Regions from separate parts of the Homo sapiens genome. Here region 2 is linked to region 1. Evidence: fine-mapped expression QTL. Tissue or cell type: sun-exposed skin. Region 1 holds a variant in brackets; the other region holds the start of a gene. All regions are shown on one strand. Distances are between the middles of the regions.

Region 1 (8,176 bases):
ACATGGCACGAGGGCAGGTGGAGGGACATGGCAGGAGGGCAGGAGGGCAGGTGGAGGGACGTGGCAGGAGGGCAGGTGGAGGGACATGGCAGGAGGGCAGGTGGAGGGACACAGCAGGAGGGCAGGTGGAGGGGCATGGCAGGAGGGCAAGTGGAGGGACATGGCAGGAGGGCAGGAGGGCAAGTGGAGGGACATGGCATGAGGGCAGGAGGGCAAGTGGAGGGACATGGCACGAGGGCAGGAGGGCAGGTGGAGGGACATGGCAGGAGGGCAGGTGGAGGGACACGGCAGGAGGGCAGGTGGAGGGACACAGCAGGAGGGCAGGTGGAGGGACACAGCAGGAGGGCAGGTGGAGGGACACGGCAGGAGGGCAGGTGGAGGGACACGGCAGGAGGGCAGGTGGAGGGACACGGCAGGAGGGCAGGTGGAGGGACACCGCAGGAGGGCAGGTGGAGGGACACGGCAGGAGGGCAGGTGGAGGGACAGAGCAGGAGGGCAGGTGGAGGGACAGAGCAGGAGGGCAGGCCTCCCCTGCGGTTTCCGGATGCTACGGGGTGGATCGGAGTGTGGTGTTAAGCACATCTGGACACGCTCTGTCCGAGACACATAGTCCCCAGGGGACCTACAGCCACAGCCTGACCTCCTGAAAATTTCCCAGCTTCCCACAGTCCTCAATGTGGAAACCAGTGCCCAAAGGCCACCTGCCCACACTGGCACCGAATTCCCTCGGCAGGACCACGCCACTGCCTGCTCACAGCCTGGGCCTGCTGCACCCAGGAGGGTCGCCTCCTGCTTACCCAGTGACCACAAACCAACCGCAGCCCGGGGAAGCCAGTGAACGTCTCTGCATTCCTGTGGGCAAAACCACACCTGCTCTCAAGAGGTCTGAACCCCAGCTTCGGAGGGTCCCCTTCCAGGTCCATCCTTCCTCATGCACTCCCCTCAGCCCAAGGACACCACATGGTTTCCTTACATCTTGCAGTTACTCTTTTATCGTAGTTGCCACTGCCGTACATGACACTTTCTGTTTAACCCAGACGGACACCTTGGCCAAGAGAGATTTCAGCATTATCTATTACGTCTAAATTGTTACAAGGAGAAGGTGTTCATATGTTAGCTGTGTAACTGAGAGATAACTGATATGACTAAAGTGCTTGTCTCTGGGTAGAAAGCCCGTGAGGTGGATTTTCCCACTTCCCTCTGTTGTCTATAATGAATGACCACTACATTTTTAACCCCAAAAGCTTCTCATATGAAGAGGAGACTTCTTTCAGCAGCAGGCAGGGCACCTTCTCTGAAGCTCGCCAGCAAGCACCAACCGACTCCCTGGCCACGGCCAGGCTGACGCCCAGGCAGTGACCCCACACGGGAGGGCTCTCGAAAAGGCTGGAGCTCCCATGACGTCAGCCTGCCGAGAAAGGACCTCTTTGTGCTTCCAAAACCACAGGCTGCCCCAAATCTGAGCAATCCCAGAAGCATCTGCCTCCCAAACTGAAGCTCTGCCAGCCCTTCACGTCAGCGGGCTCTGCGTCCGCAGACTGAACCAACTGCAGATCAAAACATACTCAGGGAAAAAGCATCTGTACGGAGCATGTACAGGTTTTCTTACCCTTATTCCCCAAACTCCCACTGCATTCCTAGGTGCTAGGTATTCCAAGTAGTCTAGAAATGACTTAAAGTATACGGAAGGATGTGTGTAGGTTACATGCAAACACTACATCATCTTAAGAGACTTAAACATCCATGGATTTTGTATCCACATGGAGTCCTAGAACCAATCCCTGCAGATACCGAGGGGCAACGGCCTCCCCTCTACAGTCAGCATTATTGAGGAAAGAAGGAGTCAGAAAACCAGATTAAGGCTATTGTGGCTCCCAAAACCTGTGGAACCTAAACTCCCATCTCAAAGCCCAGTGCTCGGTGCCCTGGGAAGAGCATCGCCGGGACCTCCAGGGAGACCACCAGGCTGGGAATCAGGCCAGGCCTGCGTGTTGGGCCTTCCCCACTCCTGTGCGCACACAAGCCCGCTCTACTGGGTCACGGCCAAAGCAATCCATCCGCCCTTCCTCCACATCATCACGGGAGGAGGAACCCCTTTCCAGGTCTCACCAAATCCTGACACTGGAAAAGGGTGGGAGAGTCAGCTCTGGACAACCAGGACTCAACCACGCCCTAGGGAACGGCAACAACTGCCCAGGGAGAGCCCAGATGGCCCAGAACACACCAGGAGCAAAGCCTGAGGAACAAAAACCACCTTTCCAGAACCTTTAGGATGACTGGCTTCTCCCAGCCTGTGTCTGCCTGCCCCTTTAGTCATATCAGTTATCTCTCAGTTACACAGCTAACATACGAACACCTTCTCCTTGTAACAATTTAGACATAATAGATAATGCTGAAATCTCTCTTGGCCAAGGTGTCCGTCTGGGTTAAACATGGGCCGGATCACAGCAAACCTAGCCTACGACAGCCGCTAAGAGCTGCTTCCTGAGCCCCAAACAGCTCCGCCCCTAGGACAAGCGCCTTTATCTAGAATGGTGCTTCTTAACTTTCTGTTATCTGAGGACCATCTCCACAGTTTCTGTGAAATCTGCACCTGGTAAAATTTATTTCGTATCTTCAAGTCAACCTTAAGTTGATAACGCATTGCCCAGCCTTGTCCCAAACAGAGGTTTGATGGCGTGAATATTCAAACTGCCACCTACTGATCCTCACCACACTCATCGCCCATATGCCCCAAGGGGCTGGGGGTGCCACAATGAGGAATGCAGCCCTAAAGAGGATGCCCGAAGTGAGGATGGGGACGAGTGCGTGGCACTCAAGCTCAGGCTGGGGCAGGGCCTGACTACAGAGGTCTGGAAGGACCTTAGGAAAACAATGTTTTTTAGAGAACCACCTCTGACAGGGTCCTGCAGCCACAGGGGCCGACAAGGAATCCTGAAGCAGCTGACAGTTGCTATGGGTTGAATTTTGTCTCCCTCGAAATTCGTATCTTTAACCTCTAACCCCCAGTAGCTCAGAATGTGACTATATTTGGAGACAGGGCCTTTTAAAAGGTAATTTAGTTAAAACAAGGCCATTAGAATGGGCCCTAATCCAATCTGAATAGGGTCCTTATAAGAGGAGGAGATGACACACAGAGGGATGACCACGTGAGGATACAGGGAGAAGGCGATGTCTACAGCCATGGAGAGAGGCCTCAGGTGAGGACACAGGGAGAGGCTGGCATCTACAAGCCACGGAGAGAGGCCTCAGGTGAGGACACAGGGAGAGGCTGGCATCTACAGGCCACGGAGAGAGGCCTCAGGTGAGGACATGGGGAAAGAACAGCACCTACAAGCCACTGAGAGGGGCCTCAGGAGGAACCAGCCCTGTGACACTTGGCCTTGGACTGACGGCCAGGACTGTGAGATAACAAATGTCTGCTGCTTCAGCCCTGCCCCCGCCCCAGTCTGTGGTGCCGTCCCAGGAGCCTGAGCAAACGAGAAAAGTGACACAGAACTGGCAGGCGTCTGCCACCCCACCTCTCTGCCCCATCCCTGTTCCAGGGTCTGGCTCAGTCCTCTGAGGCTGAGCAGCTGGAATGGCAGCCCCCGTGCTGCCCCCACACTGCCTGTGAGCACCTGGGCTGTTTCCCACTGTCTCCACCCACCTGGCCCAGGCCTTCTGGACACAGAGCTTAGTCGGATGCTGAGGCCCACCTGGGAACTTTGTAAGTGTCAAGGGTGAAAGGCAAAGGCCTTGGAGAGGACCAGTGTGTGGACCTCCTGAGGAAGGACAGACAGGAAAAGGAGAGTCTGTCATGGAAACCGAGAAGACCATTTGGAAGACTCCTTCATGTCGGGCTGGGCTCAGGCTAGTTCCTGGGGTCTGGTGAATTTCATAAAAATCTCCCCAGTCTCCAAGAGCCAAAGAGAACTCCATTCCCAGTTCCCATACTAGGAGCCAGGATCCCTGGCAGGTGAATCCCAGCACTGATCATTAGAAGAGTTCCCCAGGTGATCAAGGGCAGGGGAAACTGGAAGGCCCCCACTATCCACCCTGGGCGGCTGTGGCCCCAGTTACCTCTTTAACCACACTTCTGTCAAGCTCGTTGAAGAGCTTCTGAAACTCCTCAGCTGAGAGCAGAACACTG[C/T]CATAGGAACGCACCTTCTGCACAGGAAGGAGCACAGGTCAGCAGGGGCGCACGGGAAGGTGAGCGCCCTCGAAGGTGAGCGCCCCCAGCCCCAACCCCACCCTGACGGGCTGTGAATGCTGCAGGTGACCTGAAGCCACACCCCTAGTCCTGAAAAGGGGCTGCTGGCCCAAGTGACCTCCCGGGAGGAGCCCAGAGGAGGCTGGGAGCAGGGGGCGGGTACCTCCATCATGGCCTGTTTGTGGGAGCTGTCCAGCTGGACCTTCTGAAGCACCTGCAGCAAGTTCTGGGGCTTCACCCCAACTCTGCAGGGAAAAACCCACAGCCCGGTGAGCACAGCCAGCTCGGCTCCCTTGGAACCCTGGCCTGGGTCCTCCTGCCCTGGCGTCTGGCTTGAGCTTTGCCATGAAGCCACTTTGCAGCTTGAGCCACACCAAGAGCCCCTGTAACGAGCATCCTGCCACTGCCGTCCCCCCGAGAAGGCGCAAACTGACTTCACCACTATGAGCAGTCAGGACCAGAACTTTCCACTGCAATGTCCCTCAAGCTCTCTGCCCTCATTTCCAAGCAGGATGGTGGTGTGGACACCTGGCCCACGCACCTCTGGCTCTGCTGCCTAAGTCAGCACAGAAGGGTAGAAGAGCACAAAGGGGGACAAGAAGGCCGGGCCACTCGGCCCTTCACCAGCCCAGGGTCCCCGGGGGGCACGAAGACAAAGGCATGGACTCAGGACAAGGACGCCGGGAACCACAGAGCGCCAGGGACATGGTGGTTTCCATGAGTCGGGTGCCAGCCAGCAGGGGCGAGGCACAGGCCAAGCACAAGAAGCCCCTAATGAACACCCGGCCCCTGCCCAGCAGCCACAGCACCCACCCTCAGGGAGAAGAGGGTCCATGCCCAGCACTCACGCCTGAGGGAAGGCTCCTCCCTCCCCCACCATGGAGGATAGGACTTCAAAGGCAGCCCGGGTTCCCAGCCGCCTCCGAAACAGCGAGGTCTGGAGAGATTTCTGCAAAGAGGAAGGCTATGAACGGCAGGATCAGCCCTCCCCCAGCTCAGAACCCCCGACCCTTCCCTCCCCTGGGGAACAGGCAGAGGGGGAGTCTGGGCAGCCTTGGGGGGGGGCCCAGTTCCCCACAGCCTGGGGGCAGCCCCTCACCCCCCAGGAATGAGAGGATTGGTCAGACTCCCGGGACAGGCCGCACAGGAAGGAGTCTGACGGGCGTGCTGCGCAATATGCTGGGCCGCGTTTCTCCTCTGTGTGTTGGGGGCGCCCCCAGCTCCCCCTCAAGAGGGTTTAGGGTCTGCTGTCCTGGGAGTTGCCATCTCTGGCAGTGGCTAGAGCAACAACACATGTGCATCCCCGGCTGATCCACAAGAGGTGGCAACCCTGCCCTCCCGTCCCACCAGGGGCCTGGCCAGCAAGGGTCACCCAGCTGCTCATCTCAAGCCACACCCTGCTTGGCCTCCCGGCAGCTCCAGGCACAGCCAGCATTGGGGAGCTCGCTCACCATCAGGTAGCCCCGGAACTGACTGTAGATGATGGCTGTCAGCAGGTTCATCAGAAACAGGCTTCCTTCAAGAGGAGACAGCCACGGTCAGGGGCGCCACCAGTACAGCAGCAAAACCAACGCAAGGGTGGCCGGCACAGGATAGCACAGCGCCGGGGGCGTCCCCTATCAAATGGAAACATGGCCTGGCCAGCGCAGTCACAGGTGGGAGGATGACGAGGTCAATGGTGGGGACAGAACAGAAAGTGTGGGGTGGGGGATCCCTGGGGTGAAGCTGTTGGTGGGGGATCCCTGGGGTGAAGCTGTTGGTGGGGGATCCCTGGGGTGAAGCCGTGGCATGGGGGATCCCTGGGGTGAAGCTGTTGGTGGGGGATCCCTGGGGTGAAGCTGTTGGTGGGGGATCCCCGGGGTGAAGCTGTTGGTGGGGGATCCCTGGGGTGAACCTGTTGGCGGGGGATCCCTGGGGTGAAGCCGTGGGGTGGGGGATCCCTGGGGTGAAGCTGTTGGTGAGGGATCCCTGGGGTGAAGCTGTTGGTGGGGGATCCCTGGGGTGAAGCTGTTGGTGAGGGATCCCTGGGGTGAAGCTGCTGGTGGGAGATCCCTGGGGTGAAGCTGTTGGTGGGGGATCCCTCGGGTGAAGCTGTTGGTGGGGGATCTCTGGGGTGAAGCTGTTGGTGGGGGATCCCTGGGGTGAACCTGTTGGCGGGAGATCCCTGGGGTGAAGCCGTGGGGTGGGGGATCCCTCGGGTGAAGCTGTTGGTGGGGGATCTCTGGGGTTAAAAGCTGTTGGCAGGGGATCCCTGGGGTGATCTCTGGAGTGAAAAACACGGATGTGAAGTTTCAGGTCGTGGAGGCAGCAGGGTGTATCGGTCCCTGAGCTCTCGGGATCCTGTCACAAAATGCTGGCCACGTTACCTGCACTCACCTATCACAGTGAAGACTATGAAGAAGATGGCATAGGCCCGGTTCTTGGAATACGCAGGAATCATCACTAAAAGAAAAAAGAAATAACAGAAACTGACAACCTCAGTACCTGATCCCACTCCCATCCTGACGCTACACTATTTGCTTTTGCAATAGAAAGGAGGTCTCCATTGCTGAGCGTGGTGGCTCACGCCTGTAATCCCAGCACTTTGGGAGGCTGAGGCGGGTGGATCACTTGAGGTCAGGAATTCCGAGACCAGCCTGGCCAACATAGTAAAACTCCATCTCTACTAAAAATACAAAAATTAGCCAGGTGTGGTGGCTCATGCCTGTAAACCCAGCTACTCGGGAGGCTGAGGCAGGAGAATCACTTGAACCTGGGAGGTGGAGGTTGCAGTGAACCGAGACTGCACCACTGCACTCCAGTCTGGGTGACAGAGCATGGCACCATCTCAAACAAAAAAAAAAAAGAAAGAAAGAAAAAAAGAAAGAAAAGGAAAAAAAAGAAAGGAGGTCTCCTGGGAGGGCTGAAAGGCCTTCCTGTCCAAATTCGATCTCTTGCCTCTGCTCGCACACCCTCCAGGACGGGGAACTCCCTACCTATCAAGGATGTCCCTCTGCACACAGAGCTGAAACCTCCCTGCAGCCCTCCCCACAGTCAGTCCTGCTCCCCCTGCAGTCACTTCCTAGGACTCAGACGGTCCTGCTCCCAGTGCGGTCACTTCCTAGGACTCAGACGGTCCTGCTCCCAGTGCGGTCACTTCCTAGGACTCAGACGGTCCTGCTCCCAGTGCGGTCACTTCCTAGGACTCAGACGGTCCTGCTCCCACTGCGGTCACTTCCTAGGACTCAGACGGTCCTGCTCCCACTGCGGTCACTTCCTAGGACTCAGACGGTCCTGCTCCCAGTGCGGTCACTTCCTAGGACTCAGACGGTCCTGCTCCCAGTGCGGTCACTTCCTAGGACTCAGACGGTCCTGCTCCCACTGCGGTAACTTCCTAGGACTCAGACGGTCCTGCTCCCAGTGCGGTCACTTCCTAGGACTCAGACGGTCCTGCTCCCACTGCGGTCACTTCCTAGGACTCAGACGGTCCTGCTCCCACTGCGGTCACTTCCTAGGACTCAGACGGCCCTGCTCCCACTGCGGTAACTTCCTAGGACTCAGATGGTCCTGCTCCCACTGCGGTCACTTCCTAGGACTCAGACGGTCCTGCTCCCAGTGCGGTCACTTCCTAGGACTCAGACGGTCCTGCTCCCACTGCGGTCACTTCCTAGGACTCAGACGGTCCTGCTCCCCCTGTGTCACTTGCTAGGACTCAGACAGTCCTGCTCCCACTGCGGTCACTTCCTAGGACTCAGACAGTCCTGCTCCCACTGCGGTCACTTCCTAGGACTCAGATAGTCCTGCTCCCCCTGTGGTCACTTCCTAGGACTCAGACAGTCCTGCTCCCACTGCGGTCACTTCCTAGGACTCAGACAGTCCTGCTCCCACTGCGGTCACTTCCTAGGACTCAGACAGTCCTGCTCCCAGTGCGGTAACTTCCTAGGACTCAGACGGTCCTGCTCCCAGTGCGGTCACTTCCTAGGACTCAGACGGTCCTGCTCCCAG
Region 2 (8,137 bases), 24 kb after region 1:
TGTCCCACCCACCCCCATCAAACCAGACCTCGGATTCAACAGTGACAGGGAGAACTGGCATCTAGAACCCAAAGGCACTGCCATGAGGCTTCATGAGTGCTACCAAGGTCCCATTCCCTCACTGTCCCGGTCCATGGGCCCAGGCAAGCCCACCCAAATCACTCCCAGGGTCAGAGCTGCAGGAACGCCCGAGTCCCCCAGCCTCTGCCGGTGCCTTCTGTGGTGAAGGGTGGCCGCCCGCCTTTACCAACAGCACAAGCAGGGTGGAGCCTCCCGGCAGGCCTGGGCAAAAGCGGCAGTGGCTCCTGACTAGGAGGGGCCTTCAGGAAAAGTCAGGCGGCACAGAAGCCAGGACCCAGCACCCTGGCCTGCTCACAAGCCCCTCACCTGCCACAGAGCAGCCAGCGGGCGCACCTGGTCAGCCACTGAGCCACTGCAGGGAGCCTGGGCCACCCACCCGCATCGTAGGCACGGGCCACCTCTGGCCTCGCTGCAGAGCTGCTCCCCAGCAGGCCAACAGGGAAGGAAAACTCAACCCGAAGCAACTGAGGAGCCCGGAGAGGCTGACACTTCCCAGCACGGGGAGAGGGTGAAGCAGCTGCTTTTTCAGTTGAGACTCGGCTTTCACACCTGGCCCCTTGGGGCCCACAGCTGCACCAAGACAATGTGGTGACATGGGAGGCAGCAGCAGAGGCCTCAGGAGGTGCTGGTCCCCAGGCAGAGCTCCAGGCCATGACCCGCCCACGCCACTGGCCATCCTTAGGGAGGCAGCTGCCCCTGTCCTCGGGGCTCCTGCTTGGGGGCATGAGGTATAGGCAGCTGGGCCCTGGACGGATTAGAGGTGTGAGGGGCCCCAGACAGAGGCAGGAGACCGGACCCCACCCTCACTCTGCCCGGCCCTGCTGCACTGCCGGGAGCAAGAGCCTTCCCTCCCTGTGGCTTTGGTGCCCACATGCACAGCCACGAGACCCACCCTGAGGACACCCGAATGTCTCCCCAGGGAAGCTCTGAAAGTGGCTACTGTTTATGTCCCCTGAGCACATCCTGGGATCGCTATGAACAGAAGCCACACTGTTTTGTTCCCTGCTGTATCTGCAGAGCCCAGAAGTCAAGCACACAGGACTCAAAGCTGATATATCCCATGAATAAATGAACAGCCCTGAGGGGAGCCTGGGGGGCCGGTGATCTGAGAGGCCCCACCTTACCAGATTCCCTGGGAGAAGACAAAATCTCTACCAGGAGAGATCTAGTGATACAAGCTTCTTAGACAAGAGACAAGCGGCCGAGTTCCGGGCCTCACTCCAGCCCCAGGACCACGGAAAGTACTCACATCCACCCAGGCCAGCCATCCCAGGCCAACAGTGGTGGGCACCCCTGGAACCATCCAGCACTCGTGGTTCCCTTTCGCCTGGCTTTTTGGTTGCTGGTTTGTAAAATTCTGGGTCTGGCCATCCTCCGTTTCACCCTGCAACAGCCCAAGGATCTCGTTCCAAACACTCAGAAGCACATCGCAGCTTCCCCTGGGCCCCCACTATTCCAGGCCCACACTCCACCCTGGTCTGGCACTGCAGGTTCCCACATTTGCCGGCCCGCCTCTCTCCTGCCTTTCAACCCTCAGTGCCACTCATTCCGAACTGGGCTCTGCCAAGGCCATGCTCTCCAAAGCCTCCAACCCTTTACTCAGGCTGCTGCTTCTGCCAGGAGCACCATCCCCCAATTTGTGAGTCCAGGGACTCCCTTGGGACAGCTCGCCCCGCCCTGAGCTCATCACCCTGGGGGACAATCACCTTTCCACACACCATCACCCACTGGGGCTGAAGGGTTCTGCAAGGCACAGAGGACAGCAGGGGCTGAGATGCTGCATCCGGCACACCAGGCCTCGACACGGCTTCCTAATCCAAGCCTCTGCCCCGCAACATCCAGGTCTGAGCTCCCGCTCCCCTGTTGCTCCAGGCTCCAGGCTGCACAACCTGTGTAGGGTCCTGACCATCATCCTCTGTGACCCTGGGCAAGTCCCTTAACCTCTAGGTGCTCCAGGTCCTCATGGACCCCCACCCAATAGGAGCTAAGTACAGACTGAATGACTTACTATAGCCAGAGTACTTTGCTAAGTGAGCCCTTCATAAGCATTCAGTTACTCTGAAAGCCTCTACAGCATCGCAATCCCTTGTCCTCTGACTTGTTTGATAACCAGTAAAAGTGTGATTTTTCTGACCCAGCAACAAGAGAAAACAACTGTTCTCAACCTTTGACCCCGGCCCCATCAGGTGGGGCCAAGTCAAAACGACCCAACAGCAGGGTCCACTGGGGTCCTTGGGGCACCCACAGCAGCAGCCCTCACCACAACCCGTTGGCAAGAGACCAACCACAGGACTTGCAAACCAGAGCACAGGGCCTTCATTTCAAAGCCTGGCACAGGCCTCAGCACAGAGACTGAATGAGCCTTTCGGAGTCTCCATGGCTCCATAGTCTGCCAGTCCTTGCTGGGGACCCTGGCCAAGGGGATTCAGAACACAGAGCGTCCTGTCCACGTTCTCAGAAGCCCTGGCTGAGGCCACAGCATAGGGACAAAGAGCGCTCCCCGAGAGCCTCCTCTTGTCAGCCACACTGCCCAGCAGAGCGGGTCTCACCTGCCAGGGAGGACCTGCAATGATCACAGAGCTTACCCAGGACGGCCACTGGCCCCCACACCAGCCCGCCGGGCCCTGTGCTGAGGACAAACTCTGGATTCTCTCTGAATCCTCACAATGCCCGCCAGGCAGTCCTTAGTATTATCTCCCTTTTACTGAGATTCGGAAAGGTGAAGCATGGCCAGGCACAGTGGCTCACGCCTGTAATCCCACCACTTTGGGAGGCCGAGGCAGGCAGATCACCCGAGGTCAGGAGTTTGAGACCACCCTGGCCAACACAGTGAAACCCCATCTCTACTAAAAATACAAAAATTAGCCAAGTGTGGTGGCGGGCGCCTGCAGTCCCAGCTACTTGGGAGGCTGAGGCGGGAGAATCGCTTCAACCCAGCAGAGGTAGAGGCTGCAGTGAGCCGAGATCACGCCACTGCACTCCAGCCTGGGTGACAGAGTGATACTCCATCTCAAAAAAGAAACAGAAAGGTTAAGCAACCTGCCAAGGTCACACAGCCAGTGCAGCCCCAGAAAGGCGCCCAGACCCCTAGACACAAAGTCTGTGTTCCCTGAACGGTGCCATATGCTGGGCGTCTCATCAAGGGGCCTGCCAGAGCTGCTCCCTGCAGATCTCCTTCCTGACTGGTCCCAGGAAGCACCTGAAGAACTTCCTGGAGGCAGCTTCTGAGGTGAGCAGACAGGGTGGCCACCTTGGCCTCTGGTTTTTCATCTCTCGTCAGGGTCCCCTCCTTGGCCCCTCATTACTCCATGGATGGGCACATGCCACAGACCAGTGGGTGGGCACCAGGATTCCAACCCAGTTCCTTCCAGACAGAGGAGGAAAGAAGGAAAGAGAGGCCAGAGAGGGAAGGAGCCAGGTGTGAATTCTCAGAGTGGTTCGAGCAGCAGCCGCACCAGAACAGAGGGCTGTGACCTTGGGCAGGTCTCAGGGCCTCTCTGGGCCTCAGTTTCCTCATCTGTGAAGTGAAGCTAAGGTCCTTCCACCTCTTAATCCAGAATCTCATTCCCCTGGTGTCAGCGAGGGGCGGACGCACCCCACCCTCGGGGGGCGGATTCAGCAATCTTCAGACCAGGACAAAAAACGGGAAGGGCAGGAGGGAGTGCAGAGGGGACTCTGGGGTGGCAGAGGGCAAGGAGAGGAAGCCGCCCCCGTCTAGGGGGCCCGCCCCAGCCCCACGGGAAGTGGGACGGGGAAAGGCACCCTACAAAGAAAGGACTCCTAGCTCCCAACTGGTTCGAATCCCACCTCGGCCACTTACTGGGTGTGTGACCTTGGGTAGGGTAACGCCTCTCTGTGAGCCTCTGCTTTTTCCAGAAGAAACGGGAAAAATCAAAGTGCTGCCTTCTCTGAGTCAATTAGGCGACCCTCATTACGGCGACAGTCGGGAAGTATGGGGTCTGGGCCCGCCCGGGCACACGGAGGGTGCCTGCCGCAGGTGGCCGGTTCCCTCGGGGCTGCCCAAGGCTGGGCGAGGGCCTCTTCGCCCAGCTGGTCGGGATCAGGACGCGACACGGAAGAGACCCCAGCTCTGCCCTGACCCCGGTCCGGGTCCGCAGGACGCAGCCCACTCGCCCTCAGAACACCGGCTCGCCTGGCACCCGGCGCGGCCCGGGCCCCGCTCGGACTCGAACCTGGTGGGGGCGCGCCCGGCAGAAAGCGGGGTGCTGGGACAGCGGGACCCCCACGCGCGACCCTGGTCTCCCGGGCCAGTCCCCTCCCCAGGTCCGGGCGGCTCACCAGGGCCGACTTGGATGCTGCGGTAAGTGGTCAGCCCCGCCGGCCAGTCGCCGCCACCGCCGCGGGCCCCGCCCAGCAGGGGCTCCGACTCCGCCTGGGGTTCCGCCATCCAGCAGCCCACGCGCTGGACCCGACCCTCAGAAGCTCAAGCCCCGAAGGCGCCCAGCTTCACTGCGCAGGCGCGGAGACCCCGTCCCTGGCGTTTTTGCTGACGCGCGCACGGCACTGTGGCGCAGGGGATCCCTGCAGTCCCAGCCAATGAGAACGGGGAGGGAGGGGTGGGGTTCTCCTGAGTGGGGCGGAGCTAAAGGGCCCCGCCCCTCTAGGGTGGAGCTCAGCTTCGTTCCACCCAGGGCGGGGCAGCGTTCTGGGGCTTAAGGGCCGAGGGCTGGGGAGGAAATATGTTCTCAAAGGATGTCTTTCCGGCCAGAAGCTTCAGCATCACCTGGAAACATTTTAGAAATGCAAATTCTTGGGCCCTTAAACCTACTAAATCAGCAACTCTGCGGGGAGGACCCAGGAATCTGTGTTTTAACAAGCATTCGGGGTGATTCTGATGCATGTGAGTATTGAGTACACGGGGTGACTGCAAAGGACTCCCCCCAGAATGGAACTGGAGTTTACCCTCTGATGGTGAAATTAGGAGGATTCAATATCATTAAGGGAAAAGTTTAAAAACATATGACACACTTAAAAAATATTTACAACGTATATAAAAAGTGTTTTCAACATTAATGCATAAAGACCTTGTATTCGTTTTCTATTGCTACAGTGACTAATTACCACAATCTGAAAATATAAAATAACTCCCATTCATCATCTTTCAGTCCTGCGGGGCAGGAAACCTCCTGTCTCAGGGCCTCACGAGGCTAGAGTCAAAATGTCAGCTGCCGTGGGCTCTTATCTGCAGACTCTGGGGAAAGCCCACTTCCAGGCTCATCCAGGATGTTAACAGAATTGTCTCCATGGGCCTAGGACTGAAGTCCACGTCTTCTTGCTGGATGTTGGCTGGTGTCATTCTCACTCCTAGAGGCCACTGCATTCCTTCCACGATGGCTTGAACACCTCCATCATCAGAGCCAGCAAGCAAGAGCACGCTGAAGACGCTTCGAGATGCAGCAAGACGCCTGTAATCCCAGCCCTTTGGGAGACCGAGGCAGGTGGATCACGAGGTCAGGAGATCGAGACCATCCTGGCCAACATGGTGAAGCCCCGTCTCTACTGAAATACAAAAAGTTAGCCAGACGTGGTGGCACGTGTCTATAGTCCCAGCTACTCGGAGGCTGAGGCAGGGGAATCGCTTGAACCCGGGAGGCGGAAATTGCAGTGAGCTGAGATTGCGCCACTGCACTCCAGCCTGGCAACAGAGCGAGACTCCATCTCAAAAAAAAAGGTGCTGCAAGACGCTTCCAATCTCTGTGACTTCCCCTTCTGCCATACCTCTTTACTTTTTCCCCCTCTTTTGGGGAGGGGGGAGGGTTTAAAATAAATATAAAATTTACCATCATAACTGTGAAAGGAAAATAAATCTCAGGACTCCAAAATCACTAAGCCAAAGGGAAAAGTCAAGCTGGGAACTGCGTTGGGCAAACTGCCTCGCCTTTTCTTCTTTAATAAAATAGCTACGAAGATTTAAAAAGCTACATACCTCCCTCACAATTTGCCCGCTAGGAAATTTTTCGTGGGCACCCAAGATCTTTACCCTAAAACAGTTTTGTTGAATTTTACCCTAACAATGTACATTGACAACTGATCTTCACAGGTTCCAAACAAAGGATGGAACTCTAAGTCATCCCTCTGCTCACCTGATTGCTTCCTCTGGTATAAAAGTGCAGATTCACCGAGCCAGACTAAGGCATAAGTGACTATTCCTCTACCCCCGCAACCTGTAAATTGTGTATTTCAGTGAAAGTCTGATCAAAGACTCACAAGAATGCAACCTTTGTCTCTTATCTCTCCACATATTTTTAAAATTTCTCCCTCTTTCCCAATATCCACCCTTTCCCTTTTTTTTTTTTTTTTTTTTTTTTGAGACAGAGTCTTGCTTCGTTGCCCAGGCTAGAGTGCAGTGGTGCGATCTCAGGTCACTCAGCAACCTCCGCCACAGCACCTGGCCAGTTTCCCCTTTAAATATTGAAGTCCTACAAATCATCCTTGAAGGAAGGCATAGACCTGCCTCCCAGGCACTCCTTAACCTTGGCAAAATAAACTTACTAAATAGATCGAGACCTGTCTCAGATATTTTTAGTTCACATAACTATATTGAAGTGTACAGCTCATTGATATTAAATATATTAATGATGCTATACAACTATCACCTCCAACTCCAGAACTCTTTTTATCTTGCAAAACTGAAATTCTGGACCCATTAAGCACTGACTCCTCATTCCCTCAGCCCCTGGAAACCACCATTCTCCTTTCTATCCCTAAGATTTTGGCGACTCTAGGTTCCTCATTTAAGTGGAATCCTGCAGTATTTGTTCTTTTGTGACTGGCTTATGTCATTTAGCCTAAAATCCTCAAGGTTCATCCATGTAGCATGTGTCCAAATTTCCTTCCTTTTTAAAGCTGAATAATACTCCACTGTATGTATCCATGACATTTTGCTTATCCAGTCATCCATGGATGGGCACTGGGTTGCTTCCACCTTTTGACTATTGTGAATAATGCTGCTGTGAACATGAGTGTACAAATAATTCGTCAAGACTCTGCTTTCAGGCCAGGTACAGTGGCTCATGCCTGTAATCCCAGCACTTTGGGAGACCAAGGCAGGCGGATCACCTGAGGTCAGGAGTTCGAGACCAGCTTGACCAACATGGTGAAACGCCGTCTCTACTAAAAATACAAAAATTAGCCAGGCATGGTGGCAGGCGCCTGTAATCCCAGCTACTCAGGAGGCTGAGACAGGAGAATCGCTTGAACCTGGGAGACAGAGGTTGCAGTGAGCCAAGGGCTCATATGATTATGTCTGAGGCATTCGAACCAGAGCGACTCCATCTTGAGTTAGGACTAGGAAAAATGAGGCTGGGACTTGCTGCGACTCCATCTTGAGTGAGGACTAGGAAAAATGAGGCTGGGACTTGCTGCGACTCCATCTTGAGTGAGGACTAGGGAAAATGAGGCTGGGACTTGCTGCGACTCCATCTTGAGTGAGGACTAGGAAAAATGAGGCTGGGGCTTTATCAGGCTGCATTCCCAGAAAGTGAGGCGTTCACAGTTAAGGGAACAGATTGATAATGTTTACTAAGCAGACCTAGACTTGGGAGTGTGCTGATATCCTGATATCTTCAGAACAGAAGCATCCCTAATTTTGCTTTAAAGGTAATAATATCAATTCTTGCAAAATACAGTAATTAGGAAAATTCTTTATCACAAACCCCAGTGGCAGAGCACGTGTCCTCATGATCTTTGATCTTTTTTCATCCTATATATAAACGAGTATTATACCTAGGGTGGACACGTTCCTCCTTACTTTCCGGAACGTCCTAACTCTGTCTATGGAGCAGCTGTTCTGTCACCACTTTACTTTCTTTTCTTTTTTTTTTCTTTTTTTTTTTTTTGAGACAGAGTCTCGCTCTGTCGCCAGGCTGGAGTGCAATGGCACGACCTCAGCTCACTGCAACCTCCGCCTCCCAGGTTCAAGGGATTCTCCTGCCTCAGCCTCCTGAGTAGCTGGAATTACATGCACACGCCACCACGCCCAGTTAATTTTTGTGTTTTTAGTAGAGACGGGGTTTGACCATGTTGGCCAGGCTGG

What was found. PIP is the estimated chance that this variant, and not a neighbour inherited with it, causes the effect.
Region 2: it holds the start of TPCN2, and the variant in region 1 is fine-mapped to the expression of TPCN2 in sun-exposed skin (GTEx, PIP above 0.99).

The regions. Positions count from the first base shown.
Region 1 is chr11:69,068,888-69,077,063 of GRCh38, reverse strand. It overlaps TPCN2 (two pore segment channel 2), which reads right to left. Exons shown (of 25, transcript NM_139075.4): 9 at 6,569-6,634; 10 at 5,644-5,708; 11 at 5,041-5,141; 12 at 4,356-4,437; 13 at 4,063-4,149. Among named protein-coding and RNA genes, the nearest start is that of MIR3164, 10 kb to the left of the region's middle. The variant C/T (reference allele first, on the strand shown) is at 4,133.
Region 2 is chr11:69,045,350-69,053,486 of GRCh38, reverse strand. It overlaps TPCN2 (two pore segment channel 2), which reads right to left and starts at 4,555. Exons shown (of 25, transcript NM_139075.4): 1 at 4,381-4,555. The coding sequence starts at 4,489. RefSeq lists enhancers at 1-426, 1,577-2,151 and silencers at 4,128-4,227, 4,308-4,477, 4,598-4,817.